Regions from separate parts of the Homo sapiens genome. Here all the other regions are linked to region 3. The links come from fine-mapping of genetic effects on gene expression. A gene starts in region 3. Each other region holds a variant in brackets. All regions are shown on one strand. Distances are from middle to middle.

Evidence for each region. PIP is the estimated chance that this variant, and not a neighbour inherited with it, causes the effect.
Region 1: its variant is fine-mapped to the expression of KANK1 in whole blood (INTERVAL, PIP above 0.99).
Region 2: its variant is fine-mapped to the expression of KANK1 in whole blood (TOPMed, PIP above 0.99).
Region 4: its variant is fine-mapped to the expression of KANK1 in whole blood (TOPMed, PIP above 0.99).
Region 5: its variant is fine-mapped to the expression of KANK1 in whole blood (TOPMed, PIP above 0.99).
Region 6: its variant is fine-mapped to the expression of KANK1 in whole blood (TOPMed, PIP above 0.99).
Region 7: its variant is fine-mapped to the expression of KANK1 in whole blood (TOPMed, PIP above 0.99).

The regions. Positions count from the first base shown.
Region 1 is chr9:633,511-637,588 of GRCh38, forward strand. All of the region lies in intron 1 of KANK1 (KN motif and ankyrin repeat domains 1), which reads left to right. Among named protein-coding and RNA genes, the nearest start is that of KANK1-AS1, 50 kb to the right of the region's middle. The variant C/CT (reference allele first, on the strand shown) is at 2,184.
Region 2 is chr9:401,869-405,868 of GRCh38, forward strand. DOCK8 (dedicator of cytokinesis 8) reads left to right here. Exons shown (of 48, transcript NM_203447.4): 27 at 3,050-3,205. Among named protein-coding and RNA genes, the nearest start is that of DOCK8-AS2, 66 kb to the right of the region's middle. The variant A/G (reference allele first, on the strand shown) is at 1,797.
Region 3 is chr9:503,088-507,165 of GRCh38, forward strand. KANK1 (KN motif and ankyrin repeat domains 1) reads left to right here and starts at 1,608. Exons shown (of 12, transcript NM_015158.5): 1 at 1,608-1,667. It overlaps LOC105375947 (translation initiation factor IF-2-like), which reads right to left and starts at 2,466. Exons shown (of 4, transcript XM_047424276.1): 1 at 2,173-2,466; 2 at 1,852-2,082; 3 at 610-1,734. The coding sequence starts at 2,466. The coding sequence ends at 913. RefSeq lists a silencer at 1,244-1,733.
Region 4 is chr9:656,726-660,803 of GRCh38, forward strand. The region is part of intron 1 of KANK1 (KN motif and ankyrin repeat domains 1); the gene reads left to right. It also overlaps the pseudogene EIF1P1. Among named protein-coding and RNA genes, the nearest start is that of KANK1-AS1, 27 kb to the right of the region's middle. The variant C/A (reference allele first, on the strand shown) is at 1,738.
Region 5 is chr9:575,273-579,350 of GRCh38, forward strand. All of the region lies in intron 1 of KANK1 (KN motif and ankyrin repeat domains 1), which reads left to right. Among named protein-coding and RNA genes, the nearest start is that of KANK1, 73 kb to the left of the region's middle. The variant G/C (reference allele first, on the strand shown) is at 2,490.
Region 6 is chr9:593,262-597,339 of GRCh38, forward strand. All of the region lies in intron 1 of KANK1 (KN motif and ankyrin repeat domains 1), which reads left to right. Among named protein-coding and RNA genes, the nearest start is that of KANK1-AS1, 90 kb to the right of the region's middle. The variant A/G (reference allele first, on the strand shown) is at 1,546.
Region 7 is chr9:694,419-698,496 of GRCh38, forward strand. The region is part of intron 2 of KANK1 (KN motif and ankyrin repeat domains 1); the gene reads left to right. Among named protein-coding and RNA genes, the nearest start is that of KANK1-AS1, 11 kb to the left of the region's middle. The variant C/CA (reference allele first, on the strand shown) is at 1,646.

The DNA of each region.
Region 1 (4,078 bases), 130 kb after region 3:
CTTCCAACAGTGCTACCCCTTCTCCCAAGACTCTTAATGTAGTCTGTCTGTCCATAGCATTGTATCCAGATTCCTGAACCTGGCATATGAGCTCTCAATAATTCATTCTGACTCATCTTTCCAGGCTTACTGTTTAAATATGTTTTATTTATTAATGTTTGAGACAGGGTCTCGCTTTGTCACCCAGGCTAGTGTGCAGTGGCATGTTCATAGCTCATTGCAGCCCTGAACTCCTAGACTCAAAGGGTGTTCCTGCCTTAGCCTCCCAAGTAGCTGAGATTACAAGCACATGCCACCACACCTGGCTAAGTTTTTATTTTTAGTAGGGACAGGGTCTCCTTATGTTGCCCAGGCTGGGCCCAACTCCTAGCTTCAAGTGATCCTCTGGCCTCAGCCTCCCACAGTGCTGGGATTATAGGCATGAGCCACTGCACTGAGCCATAAATAGATGCAAGTCAAAATCCAAGAAAACCTTGAAACAAATTGCCTTACATGGTAAGAAAGGTTTATCTTTTTCATAAGTTCAGAAATGAACTTCTGGGGTTAATTAATTTGTAATTGCCCAATTGCACACACAAAGCCAATTCACTGAGACTGTGATATTGCAGTAAAGAAAGAGTTTAATGAATGCTAGGCCAGCAATGTGGAAAATGGAGTTATTATTCAAATCAATCTCCCCAAAGGCTCAGAGAGTTAGGGCTCTTCAAGGATAGTTTGGTGAGCGGAGGACTTAGGGAATGGGTGCTGCTGATTGGTTGAGGATGAAATCATAGGGATGTGCAAAATGGTCTAATCCTGTGCCACCTCACCTGCACTGAGTCCATCTCTGGACTTCCTTGGTTGAGTTATGAGTCCTGGCTCCCGGTGGGGTCACTCGGTTGCCTGAATGCAAAAGTCTGACAAGCATCTCAAAAGACTAATCTTAGGTTCTATAGTAGTGATGTTATCTATAGGAGCAATTGGGGAAGTCACAAACCTTGCAACCTCTGGCCACCTGACTTCTGAGCAGTAAGAGATTATAGAAAGTATGCTTACATGTTAGCAGAATTCAGGCCCCTCCCATTATTCTAGTCTTGTGGCCTTTATTAGTCTTACAAAGGCAGTTTCAGCACCTGAACAAGGAAGGGAATGAGTTTCAGGGAGGGACTGTTATCATCCTTGTTTCAAAGTTAAATTACAAACTAAATTTCTCCCGTGGTTATCTTAGCCCATGCCCAGGAATGAACCAGCCTGTGAGGCCAGAAGCAAGATGGAGTTGAACCATGCTAGATTTCTCTCAATGTCATCATTTTTGCAAAAGGACTTTCAGATTTAGTGGCCCACTGATATCATTAGGGGCCCAGGTTCTTATTGTCACTTCACTCTGCCATCCACTATGCACTGGTACATCCTGAGACTTGCTCTGCCTCTTGGCAAAATGGCTACAGAAGTGCCAGGCATCACATCTAGACAGGGCATCTTGTGGCTCTTGTAGGAGTAAGGAAACATTTCCAGACGCACCCTAGAGAACATCTTACATTTCACTGACCAAAAATGAGTCACATGGTCCTTTACAAACCAATCACAGGTAAAGGGAATGCCGTTATTATGGTAACCAGCATGGGGGAACAGGTGGAGAGTCAACCACCAGGACTACAGGGCTTCCTTTTCTCCCTTTGTATGTCCCTCTTCCATCCTGACCTCATGGTGACCCTAAAAAGTCTGTGCCTGCCTACCACCAAACCTGCTCTCTGCCCCTCTAGATTTTAGGTACCCAGCCCCCCAGGCCTATACCCGAGTTCGCTTTGCTCCATGGAACTTTCCTTGCGCACTCCCTGTTCTACCCCTTTGCCACCTGTGTGAAGGTCATATCTCTCTAGCTGGACCCTGAGGTCCTTTGGGGCATGCCTGCGCTGCTCTCTATTCCTTCATGTGCTTCGTAGAGAACCACAGACCCTGACTTTATTTGTGCAAACCTTTTCCCCAAAATGCTAAGACTAATACCACGCACAGATGGAAGTACTCTTACATCCTAGTCATATCAGCCCCTTGAGACTGGAGCTAGTCTTCAAAATGGAATAATAGTGTTCCCTTTTTATTATTAGAATAGTAAGAATTCTATATGAGTAGAATAAGAAAAAGTTAATGTGGCATTCACAATTTATTAATGTCCCTTCATCCATTTACCCACATTCCTTTTTATT[C/CT]TTTTTTTTTTTTTTTTTTTTTTGAGACGGAGTCTTACTCTGTTGCCCAGGCTGGAGTGCAGTGGCACGATCTCAGCTCACTGCAACCTCTGCTTCCCGGGTTCAGGTGATTCTCCTGTCTCAGCCTCCCGAGTAGCTGGCGGTACAGGTGCACACCACTTTAGTAGAGACAGGTTTCACTTTATTGGTCAGACTGGTCTTGAACTCCTGGCCTCAGGTGATCCACCTGCATCAGCCTCCCAAAGTGCTGGGATTACAGGTGTGAGCCACCGTGCCTGGCTTTATTCCTTCTTAATGAGGCACAAACTCAGTTTCTGCGTGGTACATATAGCCTTTAGATTTTCATAGTTTTACTGTTTTTCTGATATTCTCAGACAAATAAATGGTTGTACATCAGAATTATTGGAGGAGCTTTCAAACAATATGCCTATCCAAGTATCAATTAAAGATTCAGTTTCAGTTGGCCTGGGTTAGGGCCTAGGGTGTTTTTGTAAAAGTTCTCAGGGATTCTAGTGGCGGCCAGGTTGAGAGCTCTGCTCTTAGATCTTTATATGCAGAACTCTCCTGGCTGAGAATTATCAGAATAATTTCAAACTTTTCAGAGCTCTTATCCAGACTGCTGCCATATATTACTGCTTCTCATATTAGCACTGCTGATCATGCAGGGTATGTCCTGGTTTCTTTTGTGTTTGATGGCTAAATATCCACCTTCCCTTTTATCTTTTTCCTGCCTGGATTGTAAACATCTCATTTCTCTTCTGTTCCACAGCATTCAGGACAATATTAAAGAGATCATGGAGGCTCAGTCAGTTCCCATCAACAGAGTCCGAAACGTTGTCCACTTCATAACTTGCTGGGCATTCTGTCCTGTACACCTTTAAACAACCTTCCTGGCTGGGTGCGGTGGCTCACACCTGTAATCCCAACACTTTGGGAGGCCAAGGCAGGCGGATCACGAGGTCAGGAGTTCGAGACCAGTCTGGCCAACATAATGAAACCCCATATCTACTAAAAATACAAAAAATTAGCCAGATATGGTGGTGTGTGCTTGTAATCCCAGCTACTCAGGAGGCTGAGGCAGGAGAATCGCATGAACCCGGGAGGTGGAGGTTGCAGTGAGCCGAGATTGCCATTGGACTCCAGCCAGGCGACAGCGCGAGACTCCGTCTCAAAATAAAAACATAAACAAAACAGAAACCCTTCCTTTAGGCCCAGAGAGCCAACCTTTCCCTCAGAGACTGTTTTTAAACCAAGCCACTTTAGACTTTGCCAGTCCTTCTGTAGTCCCCTATTCAAAACTTTGTTTATACCTTTCAGGAATATTTTATCTAGTACTTTATTGATTTCATCCAGTTATGTGCCCCTTCTCTCCATTTTTTGACAGTTTCTACTTTATTCCACTCCTCCAACAACTCCTTAATTTCTGCTGTATCAGCAGAGCCTCTCCTAGGTAATTGGAAGAGTTGTCCTTCTCTCAACCCTATTCTTTCTCAAGTTTGCTATTCCCAGGTCTTCTGTTGCCTTCAAACACTACCAAGTAGTCTCATTATCTATTCACAATAATGATGTGAAAGCTTTTGTTCCAGCATTTGTTGAATGTTCATTTTTTCTCTGGCCTTTCATCATCTGTGACAGTACTTTGTTTAGAAAATGGAGGGTAGGGTGGCACTTGTATAGCCCATTTTGTATGGTTCAACATTCATTTCATTGTGACTAATGATGACTGATAGCTGATGTCATAAGTAGTGTTTCTTGCAGCAAAGTTTCATAAATTTTAGCATGCATCACAATCACTTGGGGTACTTAACTCAAGTACGTATTGCTGGGACTTACCTTCAGGGATATCTAAGTCACCAAGTCTGGGGTGAAGCCTGAGAATTTGTATTTCTGTTAAG
Region 2 (4,000 bases), 100 kb before region 3:
AAGAATCCTAAGGAAACATCAGAAGTCCCCAAGCATCCCCATCCCATGCACCCTGACCCCTGCCCTGCAGCGGATCTTCTGTCCCAGGACCCACCAGAATAGAATGGCAGAGGGACACTTCACTCCTCCTTGCCCTCCCTCTTCAGTATTTAGGATTCCAGGTTAGTCTGTTTTCAAAACTTTAAGTTGAGTGTATGAAAGATACCCTAGATCACCACTGCAGACCCAGGCTTAGCTACTCACATGCAGGCTATCTTCATTCCCGACAGGGAAATAAGGCAACCCAAGGTAGATATCTGCCTTCCCTGCAAAACTCATGTTTTTATTTTCTCTTTCTCTTTCCTTTCTTTTCTCTTGCTCACTATCTTTCTCCTTAAATTCTTCCCTTTTCTTTTAGTTACCATTTCTTTTTTTGTTTCTCTCCTTGACTCAAATGCCAAAGATCCCTAGACCAGGAGTCAAGAAGCCTGCATGCTGATTCCTGGGACACCATTAATTACTTCTGTGATTGGGAGCATCAGCCTTTGAGGCATTCATTTCCTCATCTGCAAAAAAACTAGGCTGGATTAGATTTATCCACTGATTCTGTGGTCTGTGTCTGCCAGTGACATCCACGGATGTTACTTAGCACCATTAGTGGCACTCAGGCCTCAGAAGGTCACTGACCCCCATTCGTGGTGATTTAATTCATTGATCCCAGCTCTCTAGATACAGGATGAACTTCATACCTTAAGCAAGTTGTATTCTTACAAAGTCGTCTGACTTTATCATTTTGCATAACCTATTATGTTTTCTGCCATCTAAAGATTTTGTGGCAATGGATATAACCTTAGTCTTTTTTAATAGTCACTAAAAATAGACAAATCCATTTCCTCAATTACTGTCTGTCACTTACAATGTGCCACTAAGCAAACACCCATCCCTTGGGTAGGGGCATTGTGGGTCTTGACCTTTGGGAAGGAAGTTTTTGGAATGCACCTTACTCCTCTTTTCAAAACATCACTCAAATTGTTTTTGAAATGTCTATTTTTTTTCTTTTGAGATGGAGTCTTACTCTGTTGCCCAGGCCAGAGTGCAGTGGCACAATTTTGGCTCACTGCAAACTCCGCCTCACAGGTTCAAGCGATTCTCCTTCCTCACCCTCCCGAGTAGCTGGGATTACAGGTGTGTGGCACCACTCCCCGCTAATTTTTGCATTTTTAGTAGAGACAGGGTTTCACCATGTTGGCCAGACTGGTCTTGAACTCTGGCCTCAAGTGATCTGCCTGCCTCTGCCTCCCGAAGTGCTGGGATTACAGGTGTGAGCCACCACACCCAGCCTGAAATGTCTGTCTTGAATGATGTCTCAAGGGACCTATGAAAGATACCCATAGTGGGGCCTTCTTTTAAGTGCCAATGTGTTGTGGGTTCAAGTTCCGATAGCCGGCTTGACCCGACACCTGTTAATGAGTAACCTAAGTGACAGGCACATGACCAAGTTCTAATCCCTTCAATGTGCTGGTGGCTCCACTGGTCCAAAGTCAGCCAGGAGTGCACATCGAAAGGTTATGGGATCTGGTAACTGTGCTTACATAGAAGTCATATGTTTTGGTTTTAAAATAATATATAATGGCATTTACTTATTTTAAGTGGATGTCTAACTATGAATTAATTCTGTAGGCAATATGTCCCACAACACATTGGCTTCTTGTAAAATGGCTGAAAATATGTGTTCATTTAAATTATATTGTTTAGTCTGTAATCCCAGCACTTTGGGAGGCCAAGGCGGGAGGATCACCTGAGGCCAGGAGTTCGAG[A/G]CCAGCTTGGCCAATATGGTTAAACCCCATCTCTACTAAAAATACAAAAAATTAGCTGGGCATGTTGATGTGCACCTGTAATCCCAGCTACTCGGGAGGCTGAGGCAAGAGAATCGCTTGAACCTGGGAGATGAAGGTTGCAGTGAGCCGAGATCATGCCACTGCACTCCAGTTCAACAGAGCAAGACTCTGTATCTCTCTCTCTCTCTCTCTCTCTCTCTCTCTCTCTATATATATATATATATATATATACATATATATATATGTGTATATATATATGTGTATATATATATATGTATATATATATATATGTGTATATATATATATGTGTATATATATATATATATAGTTTAAAAAACAAACTACTCTTGAAGTGAGTGAAGAGGAGGCATGTCTATCACAAGGATGATGCTTCATATTTCTGTGCTGGGGTGGGGGGTGATAATGATGAAATATTGAGGAGCTCAAGGTGCATCAGCGCCCCTTCCTTCCCCTATTTTGCCTTTAGAGGAGCTGCCTCTGAGTCTGGGTCTTTCAGTTGTTCAGCTTGCCTGGGGGAAGCAAGGGGTCTCTTCCAGACAGTCACCTTTTTCTGCTTTTCATTGCTTGCTTCATGGTTTATTTTTTAAAGGAAGATTTTTCCTAAAAACTCTTCTAGCTTTCTTTCTCTTTCTTCTCCATTTCCTCCTCTCTCAGTCTGGGACAAGCTCCTTGAGTTTTTTGCAGGTACTATGTACTTTGCTAAACAGTTTGATGCCTTTCTCTAGGGAACTGGTTCTACAACTTTCCAATGGGGCCTTTAATTAGAAACTACGAGAGAACACTTGTAGTATAAAAGTCATCTAGTCATATTCTATTAGTTTCATACAGGCTCATATGAGGTCAACTCCTTTCATTTAGTTTCTCGAACATAGTAGAGTTTTTGTAAAATTAATTATGTTACGGTGAAGATGTACCTCAAGATTTTCAGCACAGGCTTCCCATGGTATTAAAGATTTGATAAAGTGGAAATCGGGATAAGAATCCTCATTCTGGACAGCTACTAGGCTAGAATCACTAAGGGGAACAGTAATGAATGAAAATTTATTAGACCTCTCTGTAATGCAGAATTTACCATCTGTTGCACTATCCCATTAGTTTTTATTAAATTGATTGCCTTAACCTGGAGAGAAAGGATATTTTTGTGTCTGCCAACCTCAACTCCACTTACCTTGTAATAAATGTTTCATTCCTCTTTTCATTTTTCTTCCCAGCTGTCAGCCAAGCTCAGTAACCTTCCAACGCTCATTTCCATGAGGCTAGAGTTCCTGAGAATCCTCTGTAGCCATGAGCATTACCTCAATCTGAACCTTTTTTTTATGAATGCTGATACTGCTCCAACATCTCCTTGTCCTTCCATATCTTCCCAGGTAATAAAAGAATTATTTAACTAAAAGAATTATTCAAGCTATTTCATTTAACTAGCTCAGTTTAATCATGTATTTCCTATAAAGGTTAGTCTTATTAATTTGACAAAAAATCAAACAATTCAAACCAGATCAAGTATGCTACCCTGAAGTTACACCACTAGCTAAGAATTAACAATCTAAGTAATTGGTTTCTCCCCAGGCTCAAGGCTCCCTGATCAGGTTAAGTAAAGCCAAGAATCCAATAAGCCCTATGAAATTTAGAAACTCATAGAAAAGTCTCAAATCTTCCTTTGTCTGACATTAGCCAATTGTTATATTATGCAAATAGAGGATTCCAAAGTAAATAAGTTTTGGAAACCATGTATTCACCAGGTTTCTTTGCAGCAGGCCCTCTAAGAGGTTTTAACTTGTTCATGTCAATTGCAAATGCACGAGAAGCAGAAGAGGAAATGGGAGGAGGTGTGCATGATAAGCAGTGATTCCCCAAATGATTTAACATGGAAACCCCACCCCACCTCATACATTTTTTGAAATGTTACTCTGGAATAACTTTAAGAACATGCTGTTTGATAGTCACATTCCATTTATAGGGAACACATCAGTAGCTCAGAGCATCAGGCAAAATTTCTCATTATTAGGTTATATTTCTGTTGCATATTCCTTGATACTAGTACAAAAGTGAAGGCTTGTCTTACTAATTGAAAAAAAAATCTTAGCCATATATGCCATATGGCATGATCCAGATATTAGCTACATGACCATCTTACTGTGAACAGGGAAAGATCTGACTCACAA
Region 3 (4,078 bases):
CTCGGCCTCCCAAAGTGTGAGGATTATAGGCCTGAGCCACTGCGCCTGGCCGACGAGCACTTTTAAAATGCAGGAGTCTTCCTGCCTCTGATATCTCATCCCTTATCACCATGCAAACAATTCTCCTTTTCATAGAAGAGTAGACATTTGGGGCGGGGTGGTGGTGGTGGGGGATTTTAGAAAATATCTACTGCATCCAAATGCCCTACTCTACAGACGAAAAAGCAAGGCCCAGGAGGAGGAAAGAGTTTGCTTACTGCCACCCAGTGAGCTGGCAAAGGCGCTGAGATTCAAAATGAGCTTTCCTGCCTTCACATATCTTCCGGCTGCCCTTTGCCTATTCCCTAAACAGTCAGGAGCCATCAAGTTCAGGAATTTGCAGGTGTGCTTCGCTGTGAACTGTGGAAAAGCAGCGTCTTCTCCCCAGAGGCAAGCATGTCGCCTTGTGAAGTTTGATGGCTCTTCACTTGCACACTCACAAAAAAGACTGAGCGTGTGTAACGCCCTGCTGGATGTGTGCGGTGCTAGAGAGCTTGGGGGTGAGGGGAGGACTCTCTCCCTTAAGAAAATCAGTTGACTGCAGAGCTAACATTGTTTTTTGAGTAATACCTGGTTTTTATAAAGTCGTCCCTTCAGTTCCCAAGCTCCTCTTCTGTTTGTTCAAGCCACCTTCAATTTGAAAAAGACTGAAGTCACAGCTTCTCAATCCCTACTAATTTCTCATGGACCTACTGGATTGCTCCAAATCGAGTATTTGGGACTGAACTAGGAAGCCAGTTCAATCCTGAGCCCCCGAGGCAGGCGTTGGGTCTTCTGTGGAGTCCCCAGAGACCTGCAACCTTCTGAACACGCATCCTCCCCTTTCCGCCGAGGACTCTGTCCTGCAGCCGAGCCAGGGCGAATGCACGGAGGTCACAAGGGAGGTGCCCTTGGAGGCGGGAGGTTTCTGGCCGCCGGGGCGACCGTGCTGACGAGGCACCTGCAGGAAACAGAGCTCTGCACGCTCCGGTCCCCCTCACCCGGGGAGGGAGAGGAGGTACAGAGGCGCTGGGGGAGGACGTCGAGCAGGCCAGCCTCGTTGCCAGAACCCCCGCCCCAGCCGGAGATGGGAGCACCGCACCGTCTCACGGGGGCTGGATTTCTTCTCCCCTTGCGGGTGTGTGTGCGAGGATGGACGTGGTAAATACGGGTTGGCAGAAGGAGCGAACCGCGGTGGAGGAAGTTCTTCTGCTTAGTTCTCGCCGCGGCGAGGCCCGCGGGCCAGGCGCGGCGACGAAGGTGCACGAAGGTGCCCCGCGGGCCTGGTGGAGTTGCAGCGGCGCGCAGGCGCACTGAGGGCCGCCCGCGGCCGGCTCCGCGGTACAAAGAGCGCCCCCGCGGGGAGCCGGGCGTCCTCTGGGCGGAGGGAGCAGCCGGGGCTTCGCCGGCCCGCGCCGTTCTTCTCACGCGCCGCTCCGGGGCGCAGCCACAGCTGTCGCCCACCGCGGGTGAGAGGCTTGCTGGTCCGCCCCGGCTTCCCCGCCCCGGCGGCGGCCGTGCGGTTCGGGCTTTAATTCTGGCGCTTGCCAGCCGGGGCCGACTCCGCCCCCTGCGCCCCGCCCTTCCCCGAGCTCCGGGTCCGCGGCGGAGCGAGCGAGCGGCCGGCAGGTTGGGAGGAGCGGCCGAAGGTGAGTGACGCGGCGGGGCCGTGCCGCGCCCCGTGCCGCGGCGAGGTTGTCCCGGAGCGCGAGGCCCCTACCCCTGCCTCGGGCTGGCCCCGCGCGGAGCCGACTTGGCGCGCGCCGGGGTTGCGCGGCGGCCGTGGCGGTGGCGGAGGGCAGCCCCCGCGGGCTCCCGCTCGTGCGGGTGAACCCGGCGGCCTCGGGGCGGTCCTGGGGGGGGGTCCGAGAGGTGGCGTCGGCCCCGCGGCCGTCGGAGTTTGGCGCGCTCTGCAGCGGCGGCGCTCGGCCGGTCTGGAGGAGGGAGAGGCGCGCCGGGCACGGAGCAGCGAGAAAGTTCGGGCCGGGCCGGCCGGCGGGAGGGTGCGGGCGCCTGGCTACCCCGGCCCGGCGCTCTGTCCCTCGGATGCCTCTGGGCCCTTCCCTAGCCCGGGGCGGAACGGGGGACCCTCTCTGAAGCGGCTCTCCGTGGAGTTGGATGTTGCCCTTCGCGGGAGGGAGTGGCGGTCAAGACCCCTTTATCCTCGGCCCCAGAGGGGCAGGTGGCCTCGGGTCGCCCTCCGCCAACTCCGAGGTGGCTTCGGCCGGGGCTGGAGGGCGGGGAGGCGGGGGAGGGGCGTGGGCGCTGCGGCCTCTGGGGCGGCCCAACCCGGCGCGGGCAGCGTGGGTTTCCGAGGTCCCGCGGTTCCAGGTCGAGGGAAGGTGTAGGGGCCCTGAAGCGGGCTGGTCCCCGAATGTTGCGTTTTCTGTGCCGCTTTGGGCAACACGCAGTGGCGCTCGCGGCAGCCACGGCTCCTTGACCGTTCATCTCCTTCACCCGGGTCCCGTGGAACTTTCAGAGGCAACTGTTCTTGGTGGCTCTTGCGGGTCAGCACGAGCCGTGCTGCACGAGCGTGACCTAGTGAAGGCCTTGGGCGAGTTGGCGTTAACAATTTATGGCGTCCGCCAGCGCTCGCTTTCCGCACGTGGCCTCTGCGGAGGGTCAGCCCATCTTATTAAATAGTGGATTCTATTAGACCCTGATACCCGAGGCTAATAAGGAAGCTTAATCATCCAGATGTGTAATCGTGCAGTTCCTTTCCTCACCGTCATTGCCCCCCACCTCTGGAGCTGAATGGAAATGAGGGTCTGTTTGCTTATATTGAATTCCTGAGTTTATTCAAGTTCATTTTTAGGTGGCGTTAACAGCTAAGTAGCTGTTCATCTGCCAGTTTCTCCTTTCATCCAACTTTCTCTACTAAAATGTTGAGCACGTTTTATTTAAAAAAAATTGAAGTGTAATAAACATATAAATTTACTCTTCTAAGGTCAAAATTCAGTGGTTTTTAATATATCCGTAAAGTTATGAAATCATCACTACCATCTGATTCCATTTCGTTGCCCCCAAAAAGAACCCCTATACCGATTAGCAGTCATTCTTCCATCTCCCAGCCCTTCTCCCTCATTTTAAGGCAGCTACTTAGGAAGTTTTTCTAAGATAGAGACTGAGTGAGAAAACTGAGAGGTGATTAACTTTGATCCTTTTTCTGTTACTAGGTTTGGGGAAAGGTGCTGCTGAAGCAATGGAAGAAAAATTAAGTATTGGCTGTCCTATGGGGAGGTTAAAATGAATAAGGATGGAAGAGAAGCTGCCAGTAGAGGAATAATTGCCTCCTGTAGAGACCCACAAGTTGGGAATACATTTTATCCCCTTAGGGCACAGGGATGCTTTCTGGGCTCTAGACTTGCCTAGTCCATAAATCACTCTAGTCGAGGTTCTGCCTCAGCGAAAGTGAGTTCTGGGTGTGTGTGTGTGTGTGTGTGCGTGTGCGTGCGCGCTCGGCAGGGAATGTTAGAAGGAAAAAAGACTAGGCTTAAAAGTAATTTTTTAAAATATCCAAACTGGCCCCAAAGAAAGAAACCAAAAAACCACAGGCAAATGGCCACTGGAATTGATACATTCAAGACTAGTTTCATTTCATGAGTATCAGTTCACAAATAGTTCTGAGTTAATGTGTGCATACATTAACTTTTTATCCCAAGTGGGAGGAGGAGGATGGAAAAGGATCTAGTTGGGGGCAGTGCAAGGAACTGGGAAGAGGAATGGGATAATGGCCGAAAGGGGCAGTGCTTGTGGGAGCTGAGGACTGTTGAGATGGAATAACTATAGGGTGAGCAGATTCTGAAAGAGCAGAGTGGGTCTGTGAAAAGTTGGACACTTCACTCGGGCTTTTTGTTGGATAATGTGTGCATGTTTTAAAAATCATTTTTAGTAAGGAGAGTTGAAGCTATCCAAATTATGCAACATCCACTACACTTCTCACTCACCCTTCAATAAGAAAAGTCAACTTGTTTTCAAGTGTTTCGGGAAGTTTTAGGCCTGTTGCATGGGTGACAGCTTATGCCATCTTTTTTTTTTTTTTTTGGTAATTTAGAACATT
Region 4 (4,078 bases), 150 kb after region 3:
CTGTGACAATAAAAAAGCAGAGAATGTTCTGAGTCTCCTGTATTAAAAAGGGAAAAGCTTAAGTGAGGTTTATTTCCACTAAAGGATAGCAACATAAGGCAGCTTGACCTTTAGTGTGACTGGAGCACCGTAAATGCTACTTCTACTTTTTTCCTTTTTTTTTATTGTGGTGAAAAACACATAGCATAGATTTGCCCTCTGAATGTTTAAGTGTACACTTCATTATTGTTAACTGTATGCACAATGCCATGACAGATCTCTAGAACTTTTCCATTTCACATGACTAAAATGCTGTGCTCATCAAACAACTCTGTTTCCCCCTGTGCCAGCCGCTGGCACCAACCTTTCTACTTTCTGTTTCTATGACTTTAATTACATGTATGTGTCATAGAAATTTGGCTTTTTGTGATTGGCTTATTTCACTTAGCATAGTGTCTTCAAGTTTCCATTCTATTCATGTTGTAGCATGTGATAGAATTTCCTTTTTTGTAGGCTAGATAATAGTCCATTGTATGCATATACCACATTTTCCTTAGGCATTCATCTGTTAATGGACTTTTAGGTTGCTTCTGCATGTTGGTCATTGTGAATAATTCTGTAGTGAACATGGGGATGCAAATGTCTCTTCGAGTTCCTGTTTTTAGTTCTTTTGGGCATATACCCAGAAGTAGGGTTCTTGAATCTCATGGTAGTTCTATTTCTTATTTTTTTGAGGAACCTCTATACTGTTTTCTGTAGCAGCTGCACCATTTTACAGTTTCACCAACAACTCTCACCAATGTAGGGTTCCAGTTTCTCTACATGCTACCGATGCTTTGTTTTTTTGTTGTTGTTTGTTCTTGTTTTTTTTTAATAGTGGCCATCCTAATGAGTATGAGGTGATACTGTGGTTTTGATTTGGTTCTGCCTTTTTAAACTCCAAATTCAGTCTCTGGTTACAGCTTTTCCCATAACCATTTTCAGGTGAGGTGCGTATGCTGCGTTGGTAACATAAATTTAACATTGTGAGAGCTTTTATCAGGCAGCAAATTGTAAAGCCCCTTCTAGGTCAGACAGTTGACCTCTGTAAAGCTTAAGTTAGGAACTTTTATGTTCTTAATAAAACACAAGAAAATATGGGAAATTTCCATTTGGCATGAGCCTTTCTGTTTTCTTGGTGGTGGTGGTGTGGGGGTGGTATAGGCTCTCCCTAAATTGCCCAGGCTGGAATGCAGTGGCTCTTCACAGGTGCAATCATAGCTCACTACAGCCTCGAACTCCTGTCTCAGCCTCACAAGTACTGGGACTACAGGCATGAACCACCATACCCAGTTCCATTCTGCTTTAAACAGTGGAAAAAATACATGTATTTTTTAAATGGAAGGGTTGGTTATATCTTCAATGTGAAATCCTCTATGTGAAATCTAAATAAACTATTCCTGGAATGTCCAGTGTCCTTTCCCCGTGATGATAAACAAAGCCCAGAGCTGCCTCTCTTTAAAGATAGTAAGAAGCCTATGCATAAACAAAACACTTAAAAATAAGATCATTTATTTTATTTTACTCATCCGCTTAAACCCATCAATGACTTTTAACTTAGAAGAAAACCTAGTCTTCCTACTATGACCAACAGGACTAAGCAAATCTCATAACCTAGCCTCTGCTTACCTCTCACTTCAGCCCAACCTACTCTTTCCCTCTCTTAAAAACTCAGTAGCTGAAATATATGGAGCTCTTTCTGGCCCCGAGCCTCCAGAC[C/A]TTTTAAAGAAAAAAAAAGATTGTAATTTTGATGAAGACCGCATTGTCAATTTTTATTTCTATGGCTCTTACTTTTGGTATTATGTCTAGACCTCTCTAAGCCCTAGGTCTTAAAGATCTTCTAGGTTTTCTTAAGTTTTATAGTTTTTTTTTTAATTTTAGATTTAAGATTCATTTGGAATTAACTTTTGTATAAGACAGACGGTTAAGAAGATTCATTATTTTGACTATAGATACCAGATTGCTGTAGCACTGTTTGTTGAAAAGACTTTCCTTCCTTTTCTGAAAGAGTTTTTCTTTTCTGAAATGCCTTTGTCAAAAATCGCATAGGCACATCTGTGTGGGTCTATTTCTGGGCTGTATGCTGTTCCTGGGACCATTTTTACCTTCCACCTTTCCCCTAGTTAACTCCTACTTATCCTTCAGGTCTTAGTTTCAATGTTGTTTCCGTGGAAAGACCCTTAAGGACCACCCATTCCTATACATCTGCATACCCTCAACTTCAGTCCTAAGGAAGGGTACCTCTGTTATTCTCACTCAACACCTGTTTTTTTCTCCTTCGTAGCATTTAGCATAATACGTTTATAACTTTTTTTGTTTGTGCACATATAGTTCGTGCCTATAAGCCTCAAAAAGGCAAGAACTGAGTTTATTTTGTTCACCACTGTAGTGCCCAGCACTGTGCCTATTACATGCTGAGTTCTCAGTCAATATTTTTGAATAAATGAGTGAAACAAAGTTAGGCTTCCTGGGGGATGTTTTCTAAATCCCTAGGTATCATTTTCTTAAAATTAGAGGATATTCTTGGCTCTTGGAGCCTTAGGGCATAATTTTTTTCCCAGTTAACCCATCTTTGAAGATAGGGATTTTGAGAACTTTTGGCCTACCTCAGGGTCACCTAGCGGGTTATCAAAATGCAGATTGCAGGGCCCCAAACCCAGAGTTCCTGCTTCAGTAGGTCTGGGATGGGCCCCAAAATTTGGATTTCTAATAAGTTCCCAGAAAATAATGCTGATGCTGCTGTTCTGGGAACCCACTTTGAGAACTGTATTAGTCTGTTCTTGTACTGCTATGAAGAACTACCTGAGACTGGGTAATTTATAAAGAAAAAAGGCTTAATCGACTCACAGTTCCACAGGCTGTAAAGAAGCATGGCTGGGAAGCGTCAGGAAACTTACAGTCATGGTGGATGGCGAAGGGGAAGGTGGCACGTCCTATGTGGTGGGAGCAGGAGAAAAAGAGGGAAGAAGGTAATGCTATGCACTTTCAAACAACCAGTTCTCGGGGGAAGTCCGCCCCCATGATCTAATCACTTCCCACCAGGCCCCTCTTCCAGCACGGAGGATTATAACTCATAAGATTTGGGTGGGGACACAAATCCAAACCGTATCAAGCACTAGTGTTTTAACGTTAAGAATCTGAAGAGGCCCGAGTCACTGAGCCGCCACTGCCAAGGACTCATCTCCCCCTTCTCCCGCCACCGCCCGCTTTTGCAGCCATTTCCACTGAGGAAAAACAATCGTATGTCCACAGTCCAGAACCTCCACTCTTTCCACCCCTTTGCTGATACAAGTAAGGGTGATACCTGTCCTGCTGGCACTGAGGATTATATCCATATAAGAATTCATCCAACAGAGAAATGGCAGGAAGACCCTTACTACTGTCCAAGGGACTGCTGATGATTATGATAAAAAGAAACCAATGAAGGCATTTAAAAAGAAATTTGCCTGCAATGATACTGTAATTGAGCATCCAGAATATGGAGGTCATTCAGCTACAGGGTGACCAGCACAAGAACATGTGCCAGTTCCTCTTAGAGATTGGAATGGCTAAGGACAACCAGCTAAATGTTCATGGGTTTTAACTGCTGTGGCTCGCTGAAGCTTGAATGAGGTTTTCCTTGCAATGAGTAGAATTTCCTTTCTGTCCCTTGTCACAAGTTTAAAAACCTCACAGCTTTGTATAATGTAACCATTTGTGGTCTGCTTTTAACTTGACCTAGTGTAATTCCTTCATGCAGTAAACTTGAAAGAGCCATGCTGTCTAGTCTTGAAGTCCCTCATTTAAACAGAGGTCAAGCAGTAGGCGCCTGGCAGTGTCAAGTCTGAAACAAAGCAATACTGTCATGTTTCAGCCACACCTAGACCCCTAAGATCATAGACAACTACGTCTGGCCAGAAGCTCCTCCGCTCTCCCTCTGCAGAGTTCCCTGCCCTAAGAGACTGTCACCACCCGAACAATCCTCGGTGAATCTAAGAGGAGAGGATGGGGTAAGGCAGCAACAGCAACTCTACCACTGGAAGGGAGCCTTTGGTGGTCAAAGAAAGATCCCCTGGTGTCT
Region 5 (4,078 bases), 72 kb after region 3:
AAGCACAGAGAAAGTTAGTACAGTATTTGCCTGAGGTCAGTCACGCAGTTGGTGACAAAAGCCACTATTCTTAGTACTTCATGAGACTTCTGTTTTATATAATAGATTACAGAGGCCAGGCACAGTGGCTCTTGCCTGTAATTCCAGCACTTTGGGAGACTGAGCTGGGAGGATCATTTGAGCCCAGGAGTTTGAGACCAGCTTGGGCAACATAGCAAGACCCTGTCTCTACAGGGAAAAAAAAAAAAAAAAAGCCAGGAATGGTGATGCACACCTGTGTTCCAGCTGCTCAGGAGACTGAGGTGGGAGGATTGCTTGAGCCTGGGAGGTTGAGGCTGCAGTTAGCCATGATCATGTCACTGCACTCCAGCCTGGGCAACAGAGCAAGACCCTGTCTCAAAAAAAATTAATTACAGAGATAGTGTTCTAGTTAATAGCAAGGAAAGAATGGCTTAAGCAATAAGCTTGGCCGGGCACAGTGGCTCATGCCTGTAATCCCAGCACTTTGGGAGGCCAAGGCGGGCCCGATCACTTGAGGTCAGGAGTTCAAGACCAGCCTGGTCAACATGGTGAAATCCTGTCTCTATTAAAAATACAAAAATTAGTCAGATGTAGTGGTGTATGCCTATAATCCCAGCCACTTGAGAGGCTGAGGCAGGAAGATCGCTTGAACCCAGTATGTGGAGGTTACAGTGAGCTGAGATTGTGCCACTGGACTCCAGCGTAGGCAACAGAGTGCAACTGCATCTCAAAACAAAAAACAATAAGTTTAATGAATGATTCCCAAAGTATGGTCTATGGACCAGCATCATTCACATCATCTGGGAACTTATTAGAAATTTTAAATTTTTAGGCCCTATCAGACCTACTGCTTACTCTGAAGGTGGGAGTCTAGGAATCTGTGTTTTTACAAAGCCCTCCACATACTTCTGATTCATGATAAAGTTTCAGTACCACTAGCTTCATACCATCCTTTTATAATTTTATGAGTTTAAATGCTCAGGGCTGCTGAGATAACATACCCTTGGGTCCTGAGTGTATACAAGGTAAGAAGCAGCTGGCAGCCTCCTTGAAGGCCCAGCATAGACAACCTTACTGGCCTCCCTTTTAATATACAGATAGGTAAGAAAGCAGAAGAGGAACCAATATTTGCTCTGCTAGGCACTGTGCCTATCTTTCCCACAGTTCCCTTGCATTTAGCCCTCATGCCAATCATATGCTTGTCATAGTGTGCTCCTTATATGTTTTGGGTACTTCATCATTTTCTAGTTGTAATCTCAGTCTTGAGAGCAGGCTCAGACGTTTGCTTCGATTCTTTCACTGGCAATCACGGAGACTTGACATTGTTTCATTTAGGGGACTGTACATTTCCTCATGGGGCATGCAGTTTGTGTTGGAGATACAGAAAGCTTCATCTTGAACTTGGTGCTTCTTCCTGGAACAGTAATTTTATTTCAGGTTTGTGGGAGAGGAAGAGGAGGGACCTTGTTTTTTTTTTGCAAACCATGACATTCCCTGTACGTACCATGTACCTGGTGCATGATAAATAACTGTTAAATAGATTTCTATACTATTAACAGAAAGCTTGTATTGTGTCCGGAATTGGTTCCTTCAGGTGGTTTCTTGGTCTCACTGACTTCAAGAATGAAGCCATAGACCCTCACGGTGAGTGTTACAGTTCTTAAAGATGGTGTGTCCGGAGTTTGTTCCTTCAGATGTTCAGATGAGTCCTTAGTTTCTTCCTTCCAGTGGGTTCATGGCCTCGCTGACTTGAGGAGTGAATCTGCAGACCTTTGCAGTGTTACAGGTCATGAAGGTAGTGCAGACCCAAAGACTGAGCAGCAGCAAGATTTATTGTGAAGAGCGAAAGAACAAAGCTTCCACAGCATGGAAGGGAACCCAAGCGGGTTGCCTCTGCTGGCTCTGGTGGCCAGATTTTATTCCCTTATTTGGCCCCGCCCACGTCCTGCTGATTGGTCCATTTTACAGAGTGCTGATTGGCCCATTTTACAGAGAGCTGATTGATCCATTTTACAGAGTGCTGATTGGTGTGTTATTACAGAGTGCTGATTGGTGCATTTACAAACCTTTAGCTAGACACAGAGTGCTGACTGGTGTGTTTACAAACCTTTAGACACAGAGCGCTGATTGGTGCGTTTTTACAGAGTGCTGATTGGCGCGCTTACAAACCTTTAGCTAGACACAGAGTGCTAATTGGTGTGTTTACAATCCTTTAACTAGACAGAAAAGTTCTCCAAGTCCGCACCCGACCCAGAAGCTCAGCCGGCTTCACCTCTCAGTATCATCTCCCAGATAGCTTGTGCCCACCCTTCAGACTTCTTTGTTTAAGGCAGTTATTCTCAAAATGTCCCTTGACCAGAAACAGCATCACTTGGAAACTTGGTAGAAGTACACATTCTCAAGTTCCACCCCAAACCTCTTGAATCAGAAATTCTGAGGGTAGGGCCCAGGAATTTATGTTTCAACAA[G/C]TCTTGCAGGTGATTTTGATTTATGCTAGCATTTGAGAACCACTGGCTTTACGCATGAGAAGTAGGATTTTAAAATTGTACTTTTTATTATAATTTTCTGGGAAAGTAAAGCTGTTTCACCTGTAAACTTTGGGAATAGGAGCACCCTGAAGCTCACAATGGCATCCTGCAAAGCCCCAAAGAGTGCTAGTTGTTGATCATTACCTGTGCACACATCATTCCCTCACTCAGAGCCCAGCTAGGAGGCCTCCTTTCACCTTGTAACCAGGTCACCCCTAGATGTGATCACTTCCTCCACAAGAACTGAGAGAGAAGAGAAGAACACCAGAGGATACTGAACTGGCCATACTGGGGCTTATGGTTTAAAGGGCAGAACTGAGCCAAATGAGGACTCCTCAGAAAATTGCTTTCTCGTTGGATCACCCCAGAAATAAATCAGTAAAAGCATTCACCTTTTGTTTTATTTGCTTCAAACAAAGTAGGAAACATTCTTCTTGCTTTATATATCTAGATACCAAGTAAGGAAGTATGATTTGGATTCTTGAGTCTCTTTATTTTATTTTTCAACTGTGTGTGTGTGTGTGTGTGTGTTTGCCTTTGCTAAGCCATGGAGGGTAAAAAATGAAATATATTAGCAACATTGTTGACATGGACCACAGACAATTAAATGTTTCATTTCTTATTAATCCTGAAAGAAAAAGCCTTTTTTTTTTGTTGGGCGGCAGGGAGGGGGTGCAGTCCTCTATACAAAAATCTTAAAAACTAAATATATCTATTCTAATTGTTTTCCCCTGGAACATCATCATAGTTTAGGAGTATATCTCAATGTTGATTTTAAAAAATAAATATGTAAACAGCTAGATTTATGCACTGTTAAAGCATCAGTGCAAGTTTTAGGAAAAAATCAAGCATGACAATTGAAAATAAAATAACCATTACTAAGTTGGACTCTTCTTTACCCTCAAGAAATTGTACTTGGATGTTTATGGGAGAAATTATTCCAAATCCTACCAGTTCTGTCAGAAAACTAATATTACTCTACATAATCATTTTCTCCCACCTCTGTATAATATTTAACTTTTATTTGAAATGTAGGCTCAAGCTATGCTAAAAATCCCATCTCGAAGATGACGAGCTTATCCATGGGGAGGGGATGGAGGGCAGAGCACTCTCATAACTCTAGGAATTTGACTGTTATATCTTGACTTAATAAATGTCTGCAGCTGAAAATAGGAAAAATTGACTATATGCATGTTTGAACACATAGACATAAAAAATGCCAGCTGAAGCAGAGTATTCCGCATGCAAGCCAAGAAAAATCGGGTTCAGTGAGGCACAGTTTGGCAGGGAAGGCACACTGAAGCTGCAGGGATGGGAGGTCTAGTAACTGGGGAGGTATTCAGTTGAGGGCTGGTGCCCTCCACGTAGCCTTCCCCGACCCACCCACCCTGGGTCTGCTTCCCTCTGCCCCCAGTGTGGGCTCCCGTAGCACAGCTGGGTATTAGCTTGGTAATGGGGAAAGGATGGTATTCAACTGGGAATCTTTGGCTTCTAGGAACAAAACAAACTTGGGGAGGATGTTATCAGGA
Region 6 (4,078 bases), 90 kb after region 3:
AAAATTAAAATTAATGACAAAAGTCAGATGTGCCCATTCTCACATATTCAAACAATAAAACATACAGACAAAAAAAGGATTCTTGTATCCCACTTTTTGATCCTATTCCTAATATAACCACTGCTGAGTTTATTGTATATACTTTCAGACATTTTTTATGCTTAGTGGATATATTAGATCTTTATACATTCCCCCCCCCCATATACTTGCATTTTTTTTTTTGACTAATGTCATAAACTTTGTTATACACCTCAGTGGGATTTAAAAACACCTGAAGCCTTTGTTTTTTGGCTGGTGGCAAAAAAACCAGAGTAACTTAGAGAAGTTACCCATTGATGTTTTCACAGGGCTTTAAACACGAAGACCTGATTTGTTTGTGTAAATCGTTGGATGTAATCTTACAGAGGACCAGGGCTTGAGCACCTTCAGAAACATGGTATCATCTGATCATGATGATTTCCATCCCACGACAGAGGAAGAAATGGAGACTCCAAAGGGACAGAAGTGAATTCTTCCAAATTTATGAAAATGAACACTTAGCTAAAATGTGTTCACTGGGTTATGACAAGTAACTGGACTTCTAGGGAATGGGATGGCAGGTGGGGTGCTATCAGTTTATAAAATTTTTTGTAACCTTGTCTCTTATTTCTGCTTCCCTCCCCCAGCCATGGGAACACAAGATAAATTTGGAGTAGGTGAGGGTGGAGAGCAAAGTGACTCCCTGGGCTGTGCCCTTCACACTGGTTTTAGAAAGCATGCAGCTGACTGCCCTGGGGTCTGATCTATGGTGCTGCGCTCGAGAGAACTGTAAGGTCTGCTGTAAGTGATGGGGGCTGTGGACTTATGCAGAAGTGCACTTGTTGGGGGTTTTCACAGTACCCACCTTATTATACTAGAGAGGCAGGTTTCATTGCTTAAGGGGACAATTTATGGCAATAGGCTTATCTCCTTGTTTTAGCTCTTTATGTTTTTCTGCCTTTAATAAAATGTGAAGTCACAAAGCAATTAAATAGTAGTGTAGTTTTCAGGCAGGAGGTGGAGAAAGGCTAACTAGGGGGAAAAGGCCAACATGATTGACAGAGGCTGGCTGGAGATTTACATTGAGAATAACTCGTTCTTCAAAACTTTCTTCATTTTCTGGTGAGAATTAGGGACAAATCATATACCAGAAGGATGGATGATTAAAAATGTAGGAGTTATGATTTCTTTTTGACTTTGTAAGTCTCTAAATCCTCCACCTTAACATAGAGTTCTCATTTCAAAATGGGAACCAGCCCTGCCAGAGACTAAAGTGAGCCAGAAATACTCTAAAGTCTTAAATAGTTAATAAGTGTGAGATTGTTTATATTTTGTAAAATGTCTTAAGATACAATGAAATGGAGAATCCCTGAGTGTTTTTTTGATTTCCTAAACTCTGATCCACAATTATAGATGTGTCTGAAGGTTCAAAAATATTGAACGTGATTTCAGTTGTTTCTAGAATTTAAAAAAATTAATAATTTTTAATAATGACACTTTAAATGAGGAGAAGGCTTTTAAAACCAA[A/G]TATAAAAATCTGGAGAGTTCAGATTCCCTGTCTCTCCTCTTTCAACCTTTAATGTATAAAACAAATCCTTTTGATTCAGCCACTGTGTATTGATAATGGCTTATTTATTACAATCAGAGGAATTAAACAAAGATATGTAGATACTTTGTCATCTTTTCTTATTATAGAAACAGTTTGATTTTAAGAATTTTTATTCAGAACGCAGATTCGAAAAGAAAAAAAAGAATTTTTAGAAAAGTTGCCTTTTAATTTAAATTTCTTGTTTTGTCCTAATAATCACATTGAAATAGCCAAAACAAATAATATAAATTAAAATGCAACGATGGCCCGGCATGGTGGCACATGACTGTAGTCCCAGCTACTCAGGAAGCTAAGGCCAGCAGATTGCTTGAGCCCAGGAGTTCAAGACCAGTTGGGGCAACATGGTGAGACCCTGTCTCTACTTTTAAAATGTGGTGATTGGTACCTGTTGAGAGAAGGGTTAACTGAAAGTTATTCACATGGCCCAGAAAGTGGCTGAAAAGTGCTCTTTCTGGTGTGAATTTCTCTTGCTGTGAAAGCACTCTGAAGGGGAGACCTAATGCCATTGCAGGAGCACTTCAGCTCCAAACTTGAGCGTTGCAATCAGAACAAGAACCCGAGGAAAAGCCTGCAAAATGAGCCTGCTGCGATATAGGGTGTGCTTTTGGACAGTTATACATAAGAATTTTTTTCTTTTTTCTTTTTTCTTTTGTTTGAGACAGTGTCTCACTCTGTTGCCCAGGCTAGAGAGCAGTGGCGTGATCATTGCTTACTGAAGCCTCAAATTCCTGGGCTCAAGCAGTCCTCCCACCTCAGTCTCCTGAGTAGCTGGGACTGCAGGAATGCACCACCACATCTGGCTAATTTATTTTTTGTAGAGGTGAAGTCTTGCTTTGTTGCCCAGGTTGGTCTCAAACTCCTGGACTCAGGTGATCCTCCTGCATGGACCTCCCAAAGTGCTGGGATTATAGGCATGAGCCACTGTGCCCAGCCTCATGAGAAGATTTATGATGATAGATAGAAGAATTATTAATTTCCACAGTTTGACAAATGATAACAAATAGCTTTTACAGTTTGAGCATCCCCTATCCCAAACGCTTGGGACTAGAAGTATTTCGGACTTTGGACTTTTTTGAATTTGGGAATATTTGCATATACATAATGAAATTCCTTGGGGATGAGACACAAGTCTAAATAACAAGTTCGTTTATGTTTCATATACACCTTATATACAAAGACTGAAGGTAACTTTATACAATATTTTTAATAATTTTGTGCATGAAATAAAGTTTTGACCGCATTTTGGCTGTAACCTGTCACATGAGGTCAGGTGTGAAATTTCCACTTTTGGTGTCATGTCAGCATTCAAAAAGTGTTGGATTTTGGAGCATTTCTATTTCAGATTTTTGGATTAAGGACGTTCAACTTGTATGCCAAATTAGTAAATATTTTTTGAGTTCCTACCCACATCCCTGTGTATGGGCTCTAGAAGCAGCCATGGTTTAGTTTCCTCACCTGTAAGGGAGGGTGTAGAACTTCTTTTAATGTACATCACTGTAGGTTAAGTTCGGGTAGAGAAAAGACTAAAGGCAACCAAGGCTGGCTGTCCTCTGAGCCCCTATGCTAAGCTGAACTAGGCTTTTGTTTCTGGCAATGGATCATTTTGCTGTCACGGAGCCAGTGATTATTTACCACCCCTGGTTTTGAGTAGGTTTCCTTTTCCCCTGGCAATAGCTCTTAGAGTGTTTCACAGAGAGGCAACGGGATTCAGAAGATGCCCGTTTACACTGGTACCACTGTCTCGTTATGTCATGGTAAAGTAATGAAGTCCACCATCATTACTTTACCAGTTCCCCATTGGTGTTTTGGTCTTCCCTATACATTTTTTTTAACTTTTATTTATTTTTAATGAGATGAAATTCACATAATATAACAATAGGCAGTTTAATAATTGACAATTCAGATGTATTTAGTACATTCATAATATTGTGTAGCTGCCACCTCTCTCTAGTTCCAAAACATTTTTGTCACTACAAAAGAAAACCCCGTACCCAGTAATCAGTAACACACTATTCTCTCCTCTCTCTCATCCCTGACAATCATTAATCTGCTTTCAGTCTCTATGAATTTACAATTCTAGATACCACATGTAAAATAAATGTTCTCATACAATATGTGACCTTTTGTGTCTGGCTTCTTTCACTTAGTATATTCATCCATGTTGTAATGTCTTAGCCATTTTATGGCTGAATAGTCCATGGTACGGATATATCATAATTTGTTTATCCATTCATCTGTTGATAGATTTTTGATTTTTTCCCCACCTTTTAATTCTTATGAATAAGGCTGCTATGAACATGGGTGTGTAAGTACTTGAGTCCCTGTTTTCAGTTCTTTTAGGTTCATACTTAGAGGTGTAATTGCTGGGTTATATGGCAAGTCTGTGTAACCTTTTTGCAAAACTGTTTTCCACAGGGCCAAACCATTTCTAGTCCCACCAACAATGTACAA
Region 7 (4,078 bases), 190 kb after region 3:
GCATGCATGATTGATTTGGGCTGTATTTCAGCAACAACTTTTAAAATGAGACAGTGGACATTAGAGAGCAGCATAGTTGGGGTTGCACTTAGGAGCCCATGGCATTTTGGCTGTTTTGAGACAGATTTGGGGTAAAGAGTTGCTGCATCTTGTAGTTGGCACTGAACACTGGAGAAGAGGGCCACTGTATAAACCGCAAGGCCCCTGTTACCATCACATGCCTCCCTAGCACAATGTGCCCTTTATTAAGACAGGCCGTTCCACTACTGAGAATAGTAACCCTTTCCGCTGTCTTCCCCTCACTCTTACGTGCAGCCTGGCTTCTGGCCTCTTAACCCATGCCCAGAGTAGAATTGGCAATACCCAGGAGGGACACTGCACTGGGGATTGTTAGGTCATGCCAGTTAGGATGCAGCTGGAAAGGTGCTGCTGAGTGGGACGTGCAGAGGGGAAGACTGCAGGCTCTGTCTGCCTGAGCTCATCTGGTCTGACACCTGCCGTGATTCATTTTTCTTCATGCCATGTTAAGAAATTTTGTATCAAGTCTAGTCGACAGTTACTCATAGCCTGGAAGCAACTTTGGAAATCAGAGTTCCACTGACCCCCCTCATTTTAAGGGTATGAATCACATCACTGCATTGTATGATTCCAGGGCTCTCTTGCCCATGGCTCGTGCATGAACTAGGAAGTGATCATAGTTCCTGTTCTTGTTTTATGAAAACAATAGTATACCTTCCCCCAACCTAGGCAGGCCATTCAGGACGACTACCCTGGAGGTGCTCTGGGTGGCTTAAAGCACCGTCTTTGCACAGTGTGTTAGAGAGCACTGTGCCCTGAGGACTTCGGGAGAGCTGCAGAATGAGTGTTCAGAATAATCGGCACTCACCTTTGCCCTCATGTTGTGAGATGGAGATATTTTAACCTGGCCATAATATGCTTTAAAAGTTGGGGGGTGTTTGTCTGCTTTTGCTTTTATTTCCTTCCTGTGCTGGACTGGGACTCCCCCTTATCTAACTGGTACATACCACTCTGCCCAAGCAGTGCGTGTGCACACACACATCCCCTACAGCTCCCTGCTGGCATCTCCTTCATACACTCTTAAGAAGAAGAAACCAATGTAGAACTCAAGATTTTAGCAGACTTACTTGGTCTTGAACAAGTATCACAAATACCTTAAACCCTGACTTCGTGGGGGGGGGGGCAAGGTATAGAGGAGGAAGGGTTCTGGATCCTCTCTGGGGGGCCAGGGTTGTGTTCTTCTCCAGACAACAGAGGGTGATCCAGTACCACTAGTAGTGACAATAGAACCCACCCATTGTTCTAAGTGACAACACACTGATGCAGGTACTATTATTTTCTCAAACAATTGGAATATAGTCTAATTTGCCGACAGCTGCAAAGCAGCAGAGCCAGGATTCAAACCCAGGCAGTCTGGCCCCAGAGTGCCTGCTTCAAATCACTACATCTCTTCCTCTGTTATACTTATTCATCAGTAGATGCCTAGATGTGGGGCTTTACACTTCAGCAGATACTAAGAGGGCCATGTACCAAGCGCCAAGTACTGAGGAATACAAACATAAATACTGCTTGAGGGCCAGGCGCGGTGGCTCATGCCTGTAATCCCAGCACTTTGGGAAGCCCGGCT[C/CA]ACGAGGCCAGGAGATCGAGACCATCCTGGCTAACATGGTGAAACGCCGTCTCTACTAAAAATACAAAAAATTAGCCGGGCGTGGTGGCGGGCGCCTGTAGTCCCAGCTACTCGGGAGGCTGAGGCAGGAGAATGGCGTGAACCCGGGAGGCGGAGTTTGCAGGGAGCCGAGATCACGCCACTGCACTCCAGCCTGGGTGACAGAGCGAGACTCCGTCTCAAAAAAAAAAAAAAAACTGCTTGACTTCTGCCTCCCCTAGACACTTAGAGTCTGGTAGAGAAACACAGGCATGTGCTTGCTAACTGTAACACAGTTCCGCGTATATAGGCAAAGTGACTTAGGAAACAAGAGGGAAGAAGGGGACCAGTTATTCCCAGGACAGAGCAGTTGAGGGTAAGTAGGGCTTTACAAAAATGAGGTATCTGGGTTGGGCCCTTTAGGACAATGCAGCTGATTTTGACAGATGGGAGAGTGTGGGGAAGGGTGTGCTGGGTAGAGGGGATAGAATGAGCAAAGATAGATAAGCTTGAAAATTTCTCAGTACGTTGAGGTTTGGGGTGGGGAGGAACCTGGGAGGTGCTGGATTGGGGCTAAATTGTTGACATTTCGTGCCACAGAAAAGAGCTTTTAGGCTTTCTTCTTTAAAGTGGAGCTCCTGGCACATCACTTTGCAAGGATAGTGATTGAGAAGTTGTAGACGTTTCCAGGAATACCTGAAACAAATGTAAAATTTCTCAAATAATATGTAATACAGGAAAGCAAAGCCATCTGCCCCTGAAAACAGGCTGCATATTTGCAGTATGAGTAACAGCAGAGTCTGGGCTGTGCTCCCTAGTGGCAGGCTGACTGCACTCGTGCACCCTAAGGACATTGATGCACAGATGAAGAAAGGAAAGACAGAAATAAAATTTATTTTTAAATAATTTTAATCGTACATAAAAAGAGCTCTCATGTCTTCCTCACCCAGACTCAGATTTCCCAGTGGTTAACATTTTACCGTATTTGTTCCATCTGTGTGTGTGTGTGTGTGTGTGTGTGTGTCTGTGTGTAGAAATGCAGTTGTCATGTCTTTTTGGCCTCCTTCCATCTGAAAAGTTCTCGTTTTTACCTTTTTTTCATGGCCATGATGGTTTTAAAAAGAGAGGCCTGACATTCTGTAGAATGTGTTTCAGGCAGGGTCCAGGCCATGCCTTCTTGGCAGGACAGTGCAAAAGTGATGCTCTGCTCTTCCCCATGCAGATACATGATGTCAACTTTGATCACCTGGTCGAGGTGGTTATTTGTCAGCTTTCTCATCATAGAGTCACCATTTTTTTTTATGATTGACATTTCATGCCACAGAAAAGAGCTTTTAGGCTTTATTCTTTAAAATGGAGCTCCTGGCACATGACTTTGCAAGGATAGTAATTGAGAAGTTGTAGACGTTTCCAGGAATATTTTCTGGTGAGATATTCTGAGACGACATCAGTATCTTAGTCTTTAGTAGGAAATCTCTACCCACTAGCCTTAGCTAGTGATTCCTACCTGAATCCGCCACTGTTCTAATAATTGGTCCATGGTGATTTTCTGTTGACATAATTCCTTGTATATATTAGTTGGTATTCCTACATATTTATTATAGCATGATGGACTCACAAGTAGATACCTATTCTCTGGATTGTAACTTGTTACTATCATTAATCATATTATTTTCATGCTCAAATTATCCTAGATTTGGCTAGTGGGGGTTCAAAAGAGTTTGAATCAAATATACCCTTGACACTGGCATTAAATAGCCAATCTGATGTGTGCTGACGATTGAGACTAATAACTGGTAGGCGGAGGGTGTTATCTGAGTTCTAGATATGTATTTATCTCAGACAGTATGGGTTACCTGCAACAAGATCTGTGGTAGGCAGGCCAACAGTAACACTCGGGACCCTAGAGGCAAGCCAACCTGAAATTCAGCTTGTCAGAGACCATCTGGTGGGTGGAAGTTTTGCGTTTTCAGAGTATATTGTTTAAGTTCCCCAGGCCTATCGTCTACCTTTAGCTTTCCCTGTTGGCCAATTCAGGCCCTGGTCAGATGCGGGTGGATAGGTACACAAAGCTGGAAACAGCGTGCTGCCCGCCTTTCTCTCCTGCCTCCAGAGACACTTGTTGGCTGTCAGGGTCGGTGTTGTCTTAGCCTCACAGGCATTTTCAGTCCTTGCTCTTCCCATCCTAGAGTTTCAAACACAGAGCGAGTCTGTGTTCTGCATCTCAACATGCTAAATCAGAACCTGGATTCCCTAAAATGTTGTCTCCTGTTTCTTCCTGCCCTCACTCATGCCATATCCGTCCTTCCCAGGTTAGATTTCTCATACTTCAGTGACCTTCAGAAAAGGAATCCCATCACTTTTCTCTGCGGTGAGTCATCCATTGGTTTAAAGAAAAAATTTTCTTTTTTAATA